Linked DNA regions of Homo sapiens: region 1 is linked to region 2. Evidence: fine-mapped expression QTL. A gene starts in region 2. The other region holds a variant in brackets. All regions are shown on one strand. Distances are between the middles of the regions.

The links. PIP is the estimated chance that this variant, and not a neighbour inherited with it, causes the effect.
Region 1: its variant is fine-mapped to the expression of UICLM in whole blood (TOPMed, PIP above 0.99). The same link has a PIP of 0.9 or more in blood mononuclear cells.

The regions. Positions count from the first base shown.
Region 1 is chr2:240,936,157-240,944,485 of GRCh38, reverse strand. The region is part of intron 14 of CROCC2 (ciliary rootlet coiled-coil, rootletin family member 2); the gene reads right to left. Among named protein-coding and RNA genes, the nearest start is that of UICLM, 27 kb to the left of the region's middle. The variant C/T (reference allele first, on the strand shown) is at 5,021.
Region 2 is chr2:240,963,861-240,972,189 of GRCh38, reverse strand. It overlaps UICLM (up-regulated in colorectal cancer liver metastasis), which reads left to right and starts at 4,739. Exons shown (of 9, transcript NR_033841.1): 1 at 4,739-4,863; 2 at 8,014-8,201. CROCC2 (ciliary rootlet coiled-coil, rootletin family member 2) reads right to left here. Exons shown (of 32, transcript NM_001351305.2): 22 at 7,565-7,724; 23 at 6,672-6,809; 24 at 6,197-6,554; 25 at 5,781-5,965; 26 at 4,725-4,845; 27 at 3,928-4,061.

The DNA of each region.
Region 1 (8,329 bases), 28 kb after region 2:
ATACACAAAAGAATGTTATAGACATATAGGACAAGCTAAAAATGCCCATCATATGTGTAATTACAGCCTCAAAAGGAGATGAGAGGGCACATTTGAACAGATACAGGCCAAGAATGTTCCAAATCTAATAAAATACATCTAGCCACAGACTTAAAATGAGCTGTAACCCCCAAAAGGATAAATTAAAAGAAAATGTCACATATATACAACTTAGTAAAGTTTCTGAATACCAAAGATAAAGAAAAATGTTTTTTAAAAAACAAAGGGAAAAAGACACATAGGCGTGAAATGAACAAGACTGACATTTGCTTTCTATGCAACAATGAAGGCCAGAAGATGATGGAATGACTTCATTAAATTTCTGAAAGAAAATAATGGCTATTTTAGTATTCTATACCCAGCGAAAACATTCTTCAAAAGTAAAAACCAGGACTTTCTGCTTCTGATAATGGTGAGGTGGGTTGTTGAAAACCAACCCTCCCATCTAAAGCAACTAGAAAAGCAATACAACGTACAATCCAATAATCTGTTTAAAAGCATTAGAGAGATACTAACGCAGTCAGGTCCCAGGTGTTCAGGCTACAGAGAGAAATATATTAAAGTGAGTCTGAAATTCTATGAATACAACAGATTTCCCCTTTGAGGTATCTGCCAAGTCCTAAGTGACAGGGGGTGTAGAGCCTCAGTATCCAAGAATAAAGCTTTAGGCCGGGCTTGGTGGCTAATGCCTGTAATCCCAGCACTTAGGGAGGCCGAGGTGGGCAGATCACCTGAGCTCGGGAGTTCGAGACCAACCTGGCCAACATGGCGAAACCCCATCTCTACTAAAAATACAAAAATTAGCCGGGCATATGCCTGTAATCCCAGCTACTCAGGAGGCTGAGGCAGGAGAATTGCTTGAACCCAGGAGGCGGAGGTTGCAGTGAGCCGAGATCACCCCATTGCACTCCATCCTGGGCGACAGAGCAAGACTCTGCTTAAAAATTAAAAAAAAAAAAAAAAAGCTTTAGCTAAAAGACTGGGAACATGGCCTAAGATTTCAGCAGGCTTATGAGATTGAAGAGATATAACTTAGAGTTCAGATATACCAAAGCAGCCGGGGAACGAAAAGAAGAGCGGATATCAGAGAGCAAGGAAATGCCTTGAGGTAAGCCTGAGATTGTATATTGCGATTTTAAAAAATGGTACTGCTGGCTGAGCGCAAAATCCCAGCACTTTGGGAGGCTGAGGCAGGTGGATCACTTGAACCCAGGAGTTTGAGACCAGCCTGGGCAACATGGCAAAACCCCATTTCTACAAAAAACACAAAAATTAGCTGGGCGTGGTCATGTGTGCCTGTAGTCCCAGCTACTCGGGAGGCTGATGTGGGAGGATCACTTGAGCCCAGAAGGTCGAGGCTGCAGTGAACCATGGTCATGCCACTGCACTCCAGCCTGGGCAACAAAGACCCTGTCTCAGAAAATAAAATAAATGGTACTGCTTTGAAAAAGTATGTATTTTTTATAATTCAGAAGTAGTAAAGGACCAGGAGACTACGAATCTGAACAAAAAAATAGCAGCTGACAGTCTGAGAAGTCAGATAGTACTTTTGAAAGTCCTATCTGAAATAAAGATAATAAAAAAAAGACAATAAATAAAAAGAAAATAAAACCTGGAGTTTAGGGCTAACTAAAGAGTAGGAACCCTGGTAAACACCTGAGATTTCCCATTAGGAACATAGGAGAGTTATATTATACCCTGGGATAAGCCAGAAATAGACGACTCCTCACAAAAGACTGAAGTACAGTTACAAAGCAGCTAAATCCTGGACTGGATAAAGGCAATTTATCCCTATTCTGATTTCCCAAAGTCAAAAGCAAATTCCCTCTAGAAGAAGCTTATATCATTCAAAGCCTTAAATTATCTCTATGAATTATATCTACAAAAACACAAAGTCTGTCATTCAATCAAAAATTATTAAGCATAATAAAAAAACAAACAATATTAAGCATACTAGGAGACAAGGCCAAACTACTGAAAATAAATAAATAAAAGACAATAGAAATAGCTCATTAGGGGATCCAGATGTTAGAGTTATCAGACAAAGACCCAAAAAGTATTGTAATTAATATGTTTAAAAACATACTCAAGAAGGAAAAGAATGTTACCAAATAACTGAAATGTTTGTGAAAAGATGATTGAGTGTGTGTGTGTGAATGGTTAAAAATAATCATTTAAAAGTAAAAAGTATTAATAAAGTAATGTACGGTTTATAACAACACACACAGAAATAAAATATAGAACAACAAGAGCAAAAAGTATGGAAGAGATGTCTTAGTAAATTTGTGCTGCTATAACAAAGTACCTGAGACTGGGTAATTTATAAAGAACAGAAATTTATTAATTTATCTTCTCACAGTTCTAGAGACTGGGAAGTCCAAAATCAAGGTGCTGGCAGGTTCAGCTGTCTATCAAGGACTACTCTCTGCTTCCAAGGCTGTGCCTTGATGCTGCATTTTCCGGATGAGAAGAATGCTGCACCTTCACATGGTGGAAGGCATAAGGGAAAGTGAGACACAAATGATGCTGCAAGCCCCTTTCATAAAGGCTTTAATCTCGCTGATGAGGGTGGAACCCTTATGGCCTAAATCACCTCTTAAAGGTCCCATCTCTTAATACTATCACAATTAGTAAGTTTCAACACCTACATTTTGGAGGGGACACATTCGAAACATAGCAAGGGATGAATGGAATGTATTGCTGGAAGGGTCTTACATTGTTTGTGAAGTAATATAATATTTGGATATAGACTGTGCATATCATAATTTTAGGGTAATCACTAAAACTAACAAAAAGAAACACAGTTTCATTCTTCTACATGTGGCTTGACAATTATCCCAGCACCATTTCTTGAATAGAGTGTCCTTTCTTTACTTTATGTTTTTGATTGTTTTGTCGAACATCAGTTGACTGTAAGTATTTGGGTTTATTTCTGGGTTCTCTATTCTGTTTCATTGGTCTATGTGCCTATTTTTATACCAGTACCATGCTGTTTTGGTAACTGTTACCTTATAGTATAGTTTGAAGTTGGGTAATGTGATGCCTCCAGATTTGCTTTTTGCATGTTCTTGCTTTGGCTCTGTGGCTTCTTTTTTGGTTCCATATGAAATTTAGGATTTTTTTCTAGTTCTGTGAAGAATGGTGATGATATTTTGATGGGAATTGCATTGAATTTGTGTATTGATTTTGGCAGTATGGCCATTTCCACAATATTGATTCTACTCGTCCATGAGCATAGGATGTGTTTCCATTTGTTTGTGTCGTCTATGATTTCTTTCAGCAGTGTTTTGTAGTTTTCCTTGTAGAAGTCTTTCACATCCTTGGTTAGGCATATTCCTAAGTATTTTTTTTTGCATCTATTGTGAAAGGGGTTGAATTCTTGATTTGATTCTCAGCTTAGTCCCTGTTGGTGTACAGCAGAGCTACTGATTTGTGTACACTAATTTTGTATCCCGAAACTTTGCTGAATTCATTTACCAGATCTAGGAGGTTTTGGGAGGAGTCTTTAGGTATATGATTATATCATCGGAAAACAGTGAGAGTTTGACTTCCTCTTTACTGATTTGGATGCCTTTTATTTCTTTCTCTTGTCTGATTGCTCCGGCTAAGAATTCCAGTTCTGTGTTGAATAGAAGTGGTAAGAGTGGGCATCCTTGTCTTCTTCCAGTTCTCAGGGTGAATGCTTTCAACTTTTCCCCATTCACTGTAATGTTGGCTATGGGTTTGTCATAGATGGCTTTTATTACCTTAAGGTATGTCCCTTCAATGCCGACTTTCCTGAGGGTTTTAATCATAAAGGGATGCTGGATTTTGTCAAACGCTTTTTCTGCGTCTATTGAGATGATCATGTGATTTTTGTTTTTAATTCTGTTTATGTGGTATATCATATTTATTGACTTATGTATGTTAAACCATCCCTGCATCCCTGGTATGAAACCCACTTGATCATGGTGGCACACACTTTAAATAAGCAGACATAGACAAGTTGAAGGTAAATATATGAAAAGGATATACCACGGAAACACTAAGCATAAGAAAATGGAAGTGGCTATATCAGTATCAAAAAAGTAGATATCAAAAAAGTAGATATCAAAAAAGAGTATTGCTAGAGATAAGAGGAGATGTTTTATAATGATAAAATACCAATTCCTCATGAAGAAATAAAATACTAAATATATATACACCTAATAATAGAAATTCAAAACACATGAAGCAAAAATTGGCTGTGGAAGAAACTAAGGGGAGATCTAGTGGAAGAAACAGACAATTCCATTATCACAGCTAGAGATTGTAATGCCCTTCTGTCACTGACTGATGCAGCAAGTAGACAAAAACAACCAATCAAAGAAATAAATCAACACACAAAAAAACCCCAGTAAGGACTTAGAAGATTTAAACAGCACTACTAAGCAACTTGATTTAATTTATATTTATAGAACAATGCACTCAGCAATAGCATAATACACATTCTTTTGATGTGTTCAAGATAGACAACAGACTGGGACATAATACATTTAAATCCATTCAAATAATACAGAGTATGTCCTCCGATCGTGATGGAATTATGTTAGAAATTGATAACAATTAGACATTTAGAAAACCCTATTTGGAAGTTAGGCCATATATGTCCAAATAATCCACGGGGCAAAGAATAAATCACATGGGGAAAGAGAAAATAGTTTGAATTGACTAATAATAAAAACACAACATGCAAAATTATTAGGATGCAGATGAAGAAACATAAATAAAAACTAATAAGAAATTGTAATAGATTTTATATCTGTTAAAGAAATTGAATTCATTATCAAATGCTTTCTCACAAAGAAAACCCCAGACTCACATTATTTCATTAGTGAATTCTGCCAAACATTTAAGAAATAAGTAATACCAATTTTACACACACACTTTCAGGAAACAGAGGAAGAGAGACTACTTTCCAGTGTATTTTAGGAGCACAACTCTGATTCCAAATCTGATGATT[C/T]CAAGGAAAGAAAATTACAGAAATATTACTCACAAATATAGATGCAAAAATCTTTAACAAAATATTTATAAGTTGAATAAAAAATATATAAAATGGATACTAACTCACGACAAAGTAGGGCTTATTATGTATGCAAGTTTAACATCTAAAAAATTAATCAGTGTAATTCACTACATTAACAACATGAGGAGAACAATGATGTGATCATCTTAATAGTTCCAGAAAAAGAATTTAGCAGAACCCAGTACCCATTTATAATTTTTTAAAAATGTCAGCATACTAGGAATGAAGGGAACTTCCTTACTCTGATAAAGGGCATCTATGAAAAGCCTACAGATAACATCATATTTAATGGTGAAACATCAAATTATTTCCCCATGATTGCCTTGGGTGGAAGTATGGCCACTCTCACCACTTATATTCAACTTTGTTCTGCAGGTCTTAGTGCAATAAGATAAGAAGAAGAAATAAAAGATATTCAGATCAGAAAAAAAGTAAAACTATTGTTACAGATGAATAATTATATAAACATACAACCTTAGTACTTATAAGTGAATTTGTCAAGGTCACATGACTCAAAATAAACATATGAAATTGTATTTCTATAATAATGAACAATAAGAAAATGACATTAAAACCGTAATATAATTCATGATATAAAAATCTAGAATTAACCTAATCAAAGATGTGGAAGAAAACTCTACATTGAAAACTACAAACATGGCTGAGAGAAAGAAAGTAAAGACATGGAGAGATATACCATATTCATGGATGTAATATTCAGTATATTTAAGATGTCCATTTCCTCAAGTTGATCTATAAATTCTAAACAATTTTAATCAAACTCCTAGTAGGCTATTTTGCAGGGGAGGGAAGAAGAAATTGACAAGATGATTCTAAAATGTATATGCATATGCAAAGGATTTAGAACAGCCAAAACGATCTTGAAAAAGAACAAGGTGGATGTGTGTACACTACTCAATTTCAAGACTTACTAAAAAGCTATCATAATCAAGACAGTGTGGTTTTGGTGAAAGAATGAATAGATTGACTTGCACAGATCAACAAATCCCACATATATGATCCGTTTATTTTCAACAAGTTGCCACATTTAATCAAGGACCAAAGGAGAGACTTGAAAAAAATGGTGCTGGAAAAACTGGGTATTAGTATGAAAAATAATGGACCTTAGTTCTTACATCATACCATACACATGTGGTCCTCACACGTTAGTGTGCAGCAGGATCCCAAGGAGGGCTAATTAAAATCCAGATTTCTGGGCCCCGCCCACAGAGTTTCTGATTCAGTAAGTCTTGTGTGAGGCATGAGCATTTGCATTTTTACCAAGTCCCCAGGTGTATCAGTCTGTTCTCACCCTGCTGTAAAGAACTACCTGAGACTGGGTAATTTATGAAGAAAAGAGATTTAACAGACTCACAGTTCACAGGCTTAATAGAAAGCATGACTGGGAGACCTCAGGAAACTTACAATCATGGCGGAAGGTGAAGGGAGAAGCAAGCACCTTCTTCACATGGTGGCAGGAGAGAGGGAGTGAAGGGAGAAGTGCCACACACTTTTAAACCATCAGATCTTGTGTGAACTCACTCAACATCAAGAGAACAGCAAGGGAGAAATCTGGCCCCATGAACAAATCACCTCCCACCAGGCCCCTCCTCCAATTTGACATGAGATTTAAGTGGGGAGACAGATTCAAACCATATCACCTGGTGATGTTTATGCTGCTAGTCTGGGAAGCACACGTGGAGAACCCCTGCTGTCCATAAAAATAAACTTGAAATGGATCATAGATCCAAATGTGAAAGCCAGATGAAAATGTAGGAGGATATCTTCTTGTCCTTGGGGTAGGCAAAAATTTTTCAGACAGAACCTAGAAAATACTAATTGTAAAACTAAAAAAAGAAATAGATAAATTGGAGTTTGCCAAAGTTAAAATTTTATGTCCATCCATAAAAAATATCATTGAGAAAATGTACAGGCAGCCACAACCTTGGGGAAAATAGTCATAGGACATGTATCTGACAAGGTACTTGTATCCATGATATATAAATTCCTGTATATTCATAACCAAAATGCAAAAGCCCAGTTTAAAAAATAGGAAAAAGATTTGAACATTTGATAAAATAAAGCATACGAATATCCAATACATGCATGAAAATGTGTTCAATATCTTCAGTTATGAGGGAAATGCAAATGAAATCCTCAGTGATGTATCACTTCACATATACAGAATAGCTAAAAAAACAAAAAACAAAACCCAAAAAAACAGACAATACCAAATGTCGAGAAGGCAGAGGAGCAACTGGAACTCTTCTACACTGCTGGCTGCAGCAAAGTGATTGAACCACTTTTGGAAAGCTGCCTGCTTTTTCGGAAAGCTGCTTGGTTGTTCCCTATAAAAGTTCAACACACACCTATACAGTGAGTGCACAGTTTTGGTCCTAAGTATTTAGTTAGGAAAAATAAAAATATATGTATGCGACTTGTACAAGAAGGTTTATAGCAGCCTTGTGCATCACAGTCCCATATCAGTCGCCTCCCAGCAGGCCCCTCCTCCAATTTGACATGAGATTTGGGTGGGGACACAAATCTAAACCATATCACCAAGTGTGTGTCACACAATGCAACATAAGTACAGGGCCAAGGCAGTAGAAGGGAGTCACATCACTTACATAATGGACCTAGACATAAGCCACAATGCTCTTTGTAGGCAGGGTTCAGGCAGAGAATTCACATCACCTGGGTGCTGGTCCCAGTGATATGTAAAAGTGCCCTTTGTAGGCAGGGTCAAGGAAGGACCTTGTAGGCAGGACCAGTATTGGAAACATTGTTGCTGGACAATCCAAATGTCCAGCAACAGGTGGATGAGTAAGCAGATGTGGTTTACTCATCCCAAGGAATATAACTATGCAGTTAAAAAGAAAGGGCTTAGTGATACACTGAACAACATGTATGGATCTCCAAGACATGATGCTGAGAGAGAGAAGCTGGACACAAAAGCGTCCACACTGCATGGCTCCATTTATAAGGAATTCGGAAACAGGTGCATCCAGTCCGTGGTGCTGCACATCAGAGCAGAGGTCACCTGGGTGGGAGCCGGGGGCTTTGGGCAATGGCTGAAGGCACGTGGGGGAACCTGCTGGACTGACAAAAATGTTCTGTGTCTTGATCCTGGTGGCGGCTACCTGGCTTTGTACAATTGTCAAAATTCATTGATACTGTACACTGACTTATTAAATGTCAATAGAAAAAGAGGAAAAAGGTGACCCCAGAAAAGGACAAGGCAGAATC
Region 2 (8,329 bases):
TCCTCTCCACTCCCAACTTCAAACGAGGCCAGAACTCCTTTCTTTAAAGACACGCAAAGGAAAAAAATCACAAAACTAGTATCCACTGGGGTTTGAGAAAATAAAGTCGATCTGAGGAATCAGATCTGAGAGTCTCTAATTAAACAGAGAAGTGAGCTACTGACACACACCAGAAGATGGTAACTAGTGTTCTCAAGGTGAGGACAGGGCAGGGGTCTTGAGGTGGACAATCCAAAATGAAAACTCAGGCCGAACGAGGCCACCGTGGGGACAGGAGCAGCAGACGAGATGCGGCAGATCCTGAGATTAGCTGAGTAGGAGTAAGACCTGAAATTCTCCTGGGACCTTGGGGAAAACCGAGATGACAAGGAGAAATTCAAGATTGAAGCCAGGAGGACAGGTCCAGGGGATCAGTATTGGGATGCTGAGAATTCCAGGACAAAAGAACAGAGAAGAGGGAGAAGGAGAAGAGATGTTTTTTTTACAGTGGAAGGAACCTCTGTAAACAGAAGGTAGATTTGATTCTGCAAGTAGGGAGGGTTTGCCGGGGTAGGTAAAAATAATGAAAGGGGCCGACACGCCCACATTTTGGTGACATTTTTGAATTTCAAAAACAAGGAGGCCTCTGGCTGCCACTCTGGAAAGAGCACTGACAAGAAAAACACAAAGAACCCAGGGAATCCGCACATTTCTTGAACCCATCTGAACTCAAGGTCAGAGGCAAACAAGGAGCCTGGAATCGAATGAAAGCCAGGCCCCTCCAGGAGAGATGCCATGAGCGGCCCCACCCATCAAACCAGCGGCATGGAGTTCACCAAAGCTGGTAACATGTTGCTCGGACCCACGTGGCAGGCAGAGCCCTCAGAGGGCCCTGTGAGCTCTGGCCCTGACGTTATCCTGTGATTACGTTGGATTCATGGCCAGGGGACTTTGTGGATGTGAAGAGTTGACTCTGAGTTAAGCAAAGGGTGACCACCCAGGTGGGTCTCACCCACTCACGCACACCCTCGGGTGTCGGCAGAAGGGAGCCATGAGGTGTGAGGCACGTGGAGATGGGGGGCGTGGGGTGCAGGTGCTGCTGCCACACTGTGGCACAGCCAAGGAAGCCCCTGGCTAGGAGTGGGGAGCCCTTGGCCGACCGCACAGAAATGAGGCTCAGCCCGACAACGCAAAGAGCTGGACTCGCCACGCTGGGATGAGCCCGGATGCCCCCAGAAGCACCTGGATGAACCCAGAGGAGGACTCTTCCCCGTGGCCTCGGGTGGCCCAGCCTACCCCATGACTGTGAGACCCAGAGGGGAGACGCCAGTCACACCATGCCAGGCTTCTCACCTATGGGACTGGGGGCTCAAAAGTGGGGTTAAGTCATCAGTAATTTGTTGCAAAAAGTAGTGCACCAGGTGTGGGCTGCTGTGGGTAGAGAGCCCTGGGGTCCACAGACACCAAGAGAAGTTCAACCTACAGGCAGGAGAGCCCAGAGCCCCCCTGGGGAGCAGGTTTGGAAGAGGGGATTGTCCAGAGCAGGAAATTCTAAGGAGCAAAAGTCTTAGCTCCTAGGGCGCAGGTGGAAGCAGTGCAGCTGGGAAGGGAAGGGACAAGACCCTCGGCCCCTGGAGGGGGCAGGGCGCTGTCCTGGCCCAGCCATAAGATGCCCTGGATGCAAATGCTAAGGGAAAAGAGGATGAATAAATCATCCCTGCCATGCAAGACAGGACAGGCAGGAAAGACACACGGAAAGGAGAAAGTGTCCTATGAACAACCTAAGGAAAAACAGAGCATGGGTTACCACAAAACTTCTACATGGGACAAATTCCCCCAGAAGAGGCAGAGACTCTAAGGTGAGATTGAAACCAGAGCCAGGCTGATGAAATGAAGGCTGAAACCACAAACACCAAAAAAGCAGAGGCCAAGAGGAAGACAAACAGCAGTCACAGGACATGCAGGCCACTCAGGAAAAGTTAACCGAGAAACTTCAAATTCGAAGAGTCAAGAAATCTAGAAGTCAAATACCCTTGGAAATAAAAGGAGACATTGACAAAAAGAATTGTAGTGGGAAAATTCAACACATCATCCTTAGTTTTGATAAATTCAGGAACTGGATCAAATGTGGCCTATTTGAATAATGCATTTGTAAAGGTTGATTTAAAAGGTGTATTTCAGAACTGGGCACGGTGGCTCACACCTGTAATCCCAGCACTTTGGGAAGCTGAGGCAGGCAGATCATTTAAGGTCAGGAGTTCAAGACCAGTCTGGCCAACATGGTGTGAAACCTGTCTCTACTAAAAATACAAAAAAATTAGGTGTATTGGCGGGTGCCTGTAATCCCGACTACTTGGGAAGCTGAGGCAGGAGAATCACTTGAACCTGGGAGGCGGAGGTTGCTGTGAGCCAAGATGGTGCCACTGCACTCCAGCCTGGGTGACAGAATGAGACTCCATCTCAAAAAATAAAATAAAATAGAAGGTCTCTTTCAAAATGTGTAACCTGTGAGCAGAGCACGTTATTTCTGCATGCATGTGGGAGACATACATGTGACTATACACATAAAATGAAACTTGGCCCAACTCAGCCCGCTCCAGGTCCCCTGACTTCTCAGGTGCCCCCATCTCCTGGGCATCTCACAAGTCCTGACCCCATCCCTGGCCAGGCCGCCTGGGTCTTTCCACAGACGTCTCTAGTCTTACTGCCCCAGCAGCTGTCACCAGAAGGGTCTTTCCAAAACAGAAATTTCCAAACTGCTGGCTAATGAGGACCTTGCTCTCTCTGCAGCCTGGCCTCTGCTCTCTGCCCCCTCCCCTCTCCCCTGCAGAAGCCACCTCCTCAGAGGCTCAGGGCCTACTGGGAACTCAGAGCCTGCCTGCTAGTCTGAGTGCTGACAGCCCTCTGGTGGCCTCTGAGGGCCACCAGGCTCCGGGGCTGAGCCCCGCGTGGAACAGCACAGGCCTGGCCGGCTGCCCTTGGGGCCTTTCTGCCAACCTGCAAGGCCGTCCCTCCTGATGGCTCACCCAGGCCTCCCTCATTGGAGGGACACTTGGAGAGGAGTGGCTCCCCGGTCTCTGTGCCCTGTCTCCTCTGCACTGTGCTGGCCCCCTCTTTCCAGAATGGGTTGAGGGACGCCTGGGGGCAGTTGCCCTGGGGAGCCTCAGCCAGGCACGCTGTTCTCTGGCCCCTGGGGCCTGCAAGGGAGCTCTCTGGAGCGGAACAGTTGTCCCCTGGCCCAGTCCTGACAAGAGGATCTCAGGACACCCCGGGGGCTGCTTGGACCTGTGGGGCTGGGCTGGCTGGGCCTGGGGCTCCCCACCAGCACTGAGGACCAAGGCCTGGGCCAGGCCTCCATCCACCACTGCCTGGCCGTTCCATTTCCAGGCCCAGGCTCCTCACCTGAAAACCTCAGACCCAGCGGGCACCTCCCCAGCACAAAGCCTGGCATGTAGGGACACTGACTTCAGCCCTTCCTGAGAGGCCCCTTCTGTGTCTGAGCCACATGGAATGAAAAGTGGTCTTGGAGCAGGACAGTGTGACCCTATAAAGAGCCCCAAGGCTGGGCCAGGGCCGCCCCATGCCTGCCGCTGTGGCCTCAGCAAGAAGAAAGGGCCTAGACTTGGGGCTCTGCCCCCCACTCGCTGTGCCCCCAGGGCCAAGTCCTCAGTTTCCCCAACCTGTAAAACAAGGGCTAGAACCACCGTAAGGACAGCTCTGCTAAGGACGACCCCAGTCCCGATGACCCCAAAGCCGCCTGCCACAGCCCAGCCTGCACCTCTGCCCCAGGGCCCCACCGGGCTGGCTCCAGCCCCGAACACCCACAGAAGCCCTTGCAGACCCCTCTCTCCCACCTCCCGGCCCTGTGGCCTCCCTGCAGGGTGTGAGGGTGACCGAGAGGCCTTGTTCTTGTGCCCCACCTGGGACCCACCCTGCCGCCTGCCCCACCTGCAGCCGCCGCTTCTCCTGGCCTGCCGCACGCACGCTCGCCAGGTGCTCCAACTCCAGCCTGCGGAGCGCCTCCTTCTGCAGGGCACGTGCTGCCCGGGCGCTGCTCAGCGCGCCCTCCACCCGGCGCTGGCCTGTGGGGCAAGCAGGGTGGCTTGAGGGGCCCCCATGCCCCTCCCAGGTCACAGGCAGGCAATGCAGGGCTCTGTGGACTTGAGTGACTGGCTCCCACGTGGAGGTGGGGGTCCATCCTTGCAGCTCAAGGGTCCTGGGGCTGCCCCAGGGTCCCGGCTTCCCACCCATCCTTCCCTCCTGCCTCTTTCCTTTAATTGAGGGGCAATAAGCAGAGAAACTCGTGAGTGTGAGGCAGTGGGGGGCAGAAGGAAGGGGCCTCTCTGAGGGGGTGACGAGGGGCAGGGCCTGCCCGGGGAGAGCCGTGTGGCTGTCTGGGGGAGAGGGTGCCAGGCAGAGGGCACAGCCAGGGCAAAGGCCCCCAGTGGGAACTGCAGGAGGCCAGGGTGGGGCAGGGGGGCAGAGGATGCTGGGGGCCGGATCGGGAGGGCCCTGATGGGCCTGTGGACGTCACTCCTCTGTGCTGGGGAAGTCGCTGCTGAGAACTCCGATGCCAAGCGCTGACCCAGCCTCGCCAGGCCTGGTGGTTTGGGTGTTGCCCCCAGGCTCCCTTCCCACCGAGCTGCCCCAGGGACTGAAAGCTTATAGCCGGCAGCAGTGGGGACATGGTGGTGCCACTCTCACAGCCACTCCCAGGGTGGGCGGGGCAGGGCAAGGGAGGTCACCTTCTTCCGCCTCAGCCAGGGCTTTCTGCAGCTGCCCCACGCGGCTCTGGGCCCGGGCACACCTGCACTCTGCCTCGCTCAGCCGGCTGCTCAGGGTCGCCATCTGGATGCGGGAGTCATCCTGGGCAGAAGGACTGAGGTCAGCGGGGGCAGTCCAATGGGCGGGTGGAGGGCCAAGGTGTCTGCTAGAGGGTCGGGGCCAGCTGGGGCCGCTCACGGTCTGGCCTGCAGGTGTGCAGGGCAGGGCAGTGGGTGGTGTGGGCCGTGGGCTCGGGGAAGGTGCGGGGAAGGTGATCACACTGGGAAGCTGCGCTGACCTGCAGGCCTGGGGAGGTGGAGGCGCCCAGTGAGACTCGGCCTAAAGGGTCCAGGTTTCAAGCACAGGTGTGGTGTGGGAGAGCTGGCAGGTGGCGGCCCACAGCCTGTGGTCAGGGGGACCGGTAGGGGCTGCCCCTGGCGGGACTTGGGGCTGAGTGCAGACGGGACCCTGCCCCCTGGGGCTGGCAGCGGTGGGAGGGTGGGCCCGAAGGGAAGGAGTGTGCACAGAGGACCCTGGCCAGGGCTCAGGGCCTGCCTCTGTCTTTCCCACAGTCCTGCCCACTGGAGTCATCCAGCGAGGTGGGAGGGGGCCGCTCACGGGTGGTTCTGTGGGAGCCCTGAAGCCAGGAGCAGCCACTGGGGAGCTTGGCCCCACCGGAGGGGTCTTTGGGAGCATTGAGGGGAGCTTGCTGGCTCTGTCCTGCAGTTGCCCAGCCCCGGCAGCTCTTCAGGGGTGGCATGAGTTGCAGAATGCCCTACCCTGGGCCCTGGTGGGTGTCACAGCAGGGCCTGGCTCCAGGGGCTTTTCAGCCTGGTATAAGGAAGGGGGCGGCCTCCAGCCACCCAAGGCACTTGGGCTTGGGGGCCATGGTGGTGCTGGTGTTTATCACAACAAACAGGACGGCCTGGACACTGACCCTCAGACCCAGGGACGCGCGGATGGATGGACAGCAGGTGTTCTTCCCAGAGACCCCCGGGGGGTGCCGCCGTGGGCGGGAGGACCCCAGCCCCCATTACCCGCTCCCGCTGGGCTTCCCGGAGCTTCTGCACAAAGTCCCGCAGGATGTCCTGCACGGTGGCCACATCCATGAGCTCTGAGCTGCGGCCTCCGGGTGTGGGCGAGGGCCATCGGAGGGGCGAGTGGGGCCTGGCTGGGGGGCTGGTACCCTGTTGCCCAGGGAGAGCCTGGGAGCTGTCGGAGCCTGCGGGAGGTGACAGCGGAGGGGTCGTGGACAGGAACACAGTGACAGATACACGCCCTTCCCCTTTCCTCTCTGCTGCCCCAGCCATGGGAGGTTGGGGAGACGGCCACAGGTTCCTACAATTGCCTGTCCGAGTCCCTCACTGTGTGAGTTGTGAGGCCTGAAAGAGAGGTGCCAGGCCAGGGACTGAGCTGGGAGAGGGGCCCGCCTGCCTCCACTGAGGACTCTGACCTTTGGTGGGGGAACCAGGCTGCTCCGGGGAGGCCCACGGGCTCTGTCTCTGGAGCCCCAGGCCACGGCGGAGCGTGGAGCACAGCCGGCCCAGCTGGGCCTCCGCATCCTGCCTTGCACCCTCAGCCTGGGCCAGCTCCTGCTCCAGGCTGTGGATTCGGTGACAGGCCTGGTCCAGGCGAGCCTGGAGAGCATCAGCCACACCACTGGCTTCCTGCAGCTTCCTGGTGACACTGTGCAGCTCTGCTCGGAGGGTCTGCTCAGCCCCCCGGCTCTCACGGAGGTGCTCCTGGAGCCGCTGTCCATGGGCCTCCCCTGCGGCCTCCACCTCTGCCAACTTCCTCTGCAATCCCAGGACCTGTAGGAGGGATGTTGGGGTGCGCCCGTGGGAGACAGTGAGGAAGTGGGGTGGGCCTCCTCCCTCTGCTCCCCGACGCCCAGCTCCTTCCCTTCTGACCACAGGCAGCCCTCCCACCTCCTTCCGGGCACCCTCGTGCTTGGCCTCTGCCTTGGCTGCCTGCCTCCGCAGCTCCAGCACCTCCTGCGAGCACTGCGCCTGCAGCTCATGGGCCTCTCCACTCCTCCTCTGGTTCTCGGCCTTCAGTGTCCTCACCTGGGAGCGTGGGGCCGCACGGACAGGGTCACTGGTCTCTGTGCTGGAACCCAGGCAGCCTCCCTGCCTCCTGCCTCCGCTCACACGTCCCTTGAGGGCAGCTGGCCACACTTAGGGAGGCTTGGGCTAAGGTGCCCCAAAGGACCTTGCCCTGGGAGTTGTCACCCTCAGCCACTCTGTAGACACCTACCTGGGACCTCCTCGGAACCTCCTTGGAGGACCTGGGACAAGGAGGAGGCTCAGGTGGGGCGGGGTGGGCACTGATTAGGGAGTGTGGGCAGTGGCTGGGGTGCATTGGACCCAACTGCCCCGAGGCCGCCATTACAGGAGGGAGCCAGGCCTTGGGGGGACCCGGCTTGCCAGCACCCTGCCCTGCAGAGGCCAGGCCTCCCCTCTAGCCTGCCTGAGTTCCCGAGCGCCACCGGAAGGTGTTGCATGTAGGATACTTCCGTGTGCTGCTGTGCATGCCGGAAGGTGTTGCATGTAGGATACTTCCGTGTGCTGCTGGGCATGGTTCCCTTCCTCCTCGCTAAAGCATTCCTGGTTTTGCCCTCTCCAGTCTTGTCATCTGTGCCCCATGGGGACAGACCCAACCAGGGACCCTGTGAGCCTGAGCAGGGCGTGGCCCAAAGTCTGGGGACAGAGTGGTTCAAAGGCGGCAGCAAGGCCAGGGCTGGGGGCTCCCCTGGGAGGAGCCGGGACCCACCAGGCGGGAGGGTGCCTGGTTGGATGTTGACCCCTCCCTGCCGCCCTACCTGTCTGTGGAGTTCCCGGAGCTCCTGACGGGCGTCCCCCCCTGCCTGCTCCAGCTCCCACAGGTGGGCCCGCAGTGCACTGGCCTCCTGCTGCAACGCCGCCTGGGCCTCCTCCAGGATGAGCAGCTTCTGCTCCTTCTCCTCCTTGGACCGCTTAAAACTGACGAGGGTGCCACAGGCTGGGGCCCCCGCACCTCCTGGTGGGGCCAGCACAGCTGCCCAGCAGGTCTCTGCCTCCCCTAGTGAGGCACTGGCCCCAGTCTTGACTCTGCACAGTGTCCTCAAACTCAGCCTCTGCAGGGTTCCCTGTCACCTTACAGACATATGTCCACCCAGGTCCCGGTGCCGGCCGCATGGCCCCTGTCCACTATCCACCTCTTCAGCCCCTCCTCACCTCATCCCTCCCTGTCTCCCCCTCTCTGTCACACTCCCGGACGCTCAACATCCAGCCTAGCCTGGTACCTCTGCCACCTGCTGTGAGGGCTGTGCCATCCTGCCCAGCTGCCCCACAGGGGCCTTTCTAGAGCCCCAGCCAGGCCGTTGGCCTCCCTCTGCTCCCCAGCTCTGCACCACCTCCTGGAGGCCACCTGTGACCTATCTTGCCTGCTGGATGGGAACTCCCTGTGGGCAGGGACAGGTGTGTCCATGTCCTCAGCCATCCCTCGCACTGGCCAGCATTGCAGACCTCTTGGACTGGGCAGCGGGAGGCCTGCTTGGCATGTCTACCCCACCATCAGTGGGGCCCAAGTCAACAGGACGCCCCTG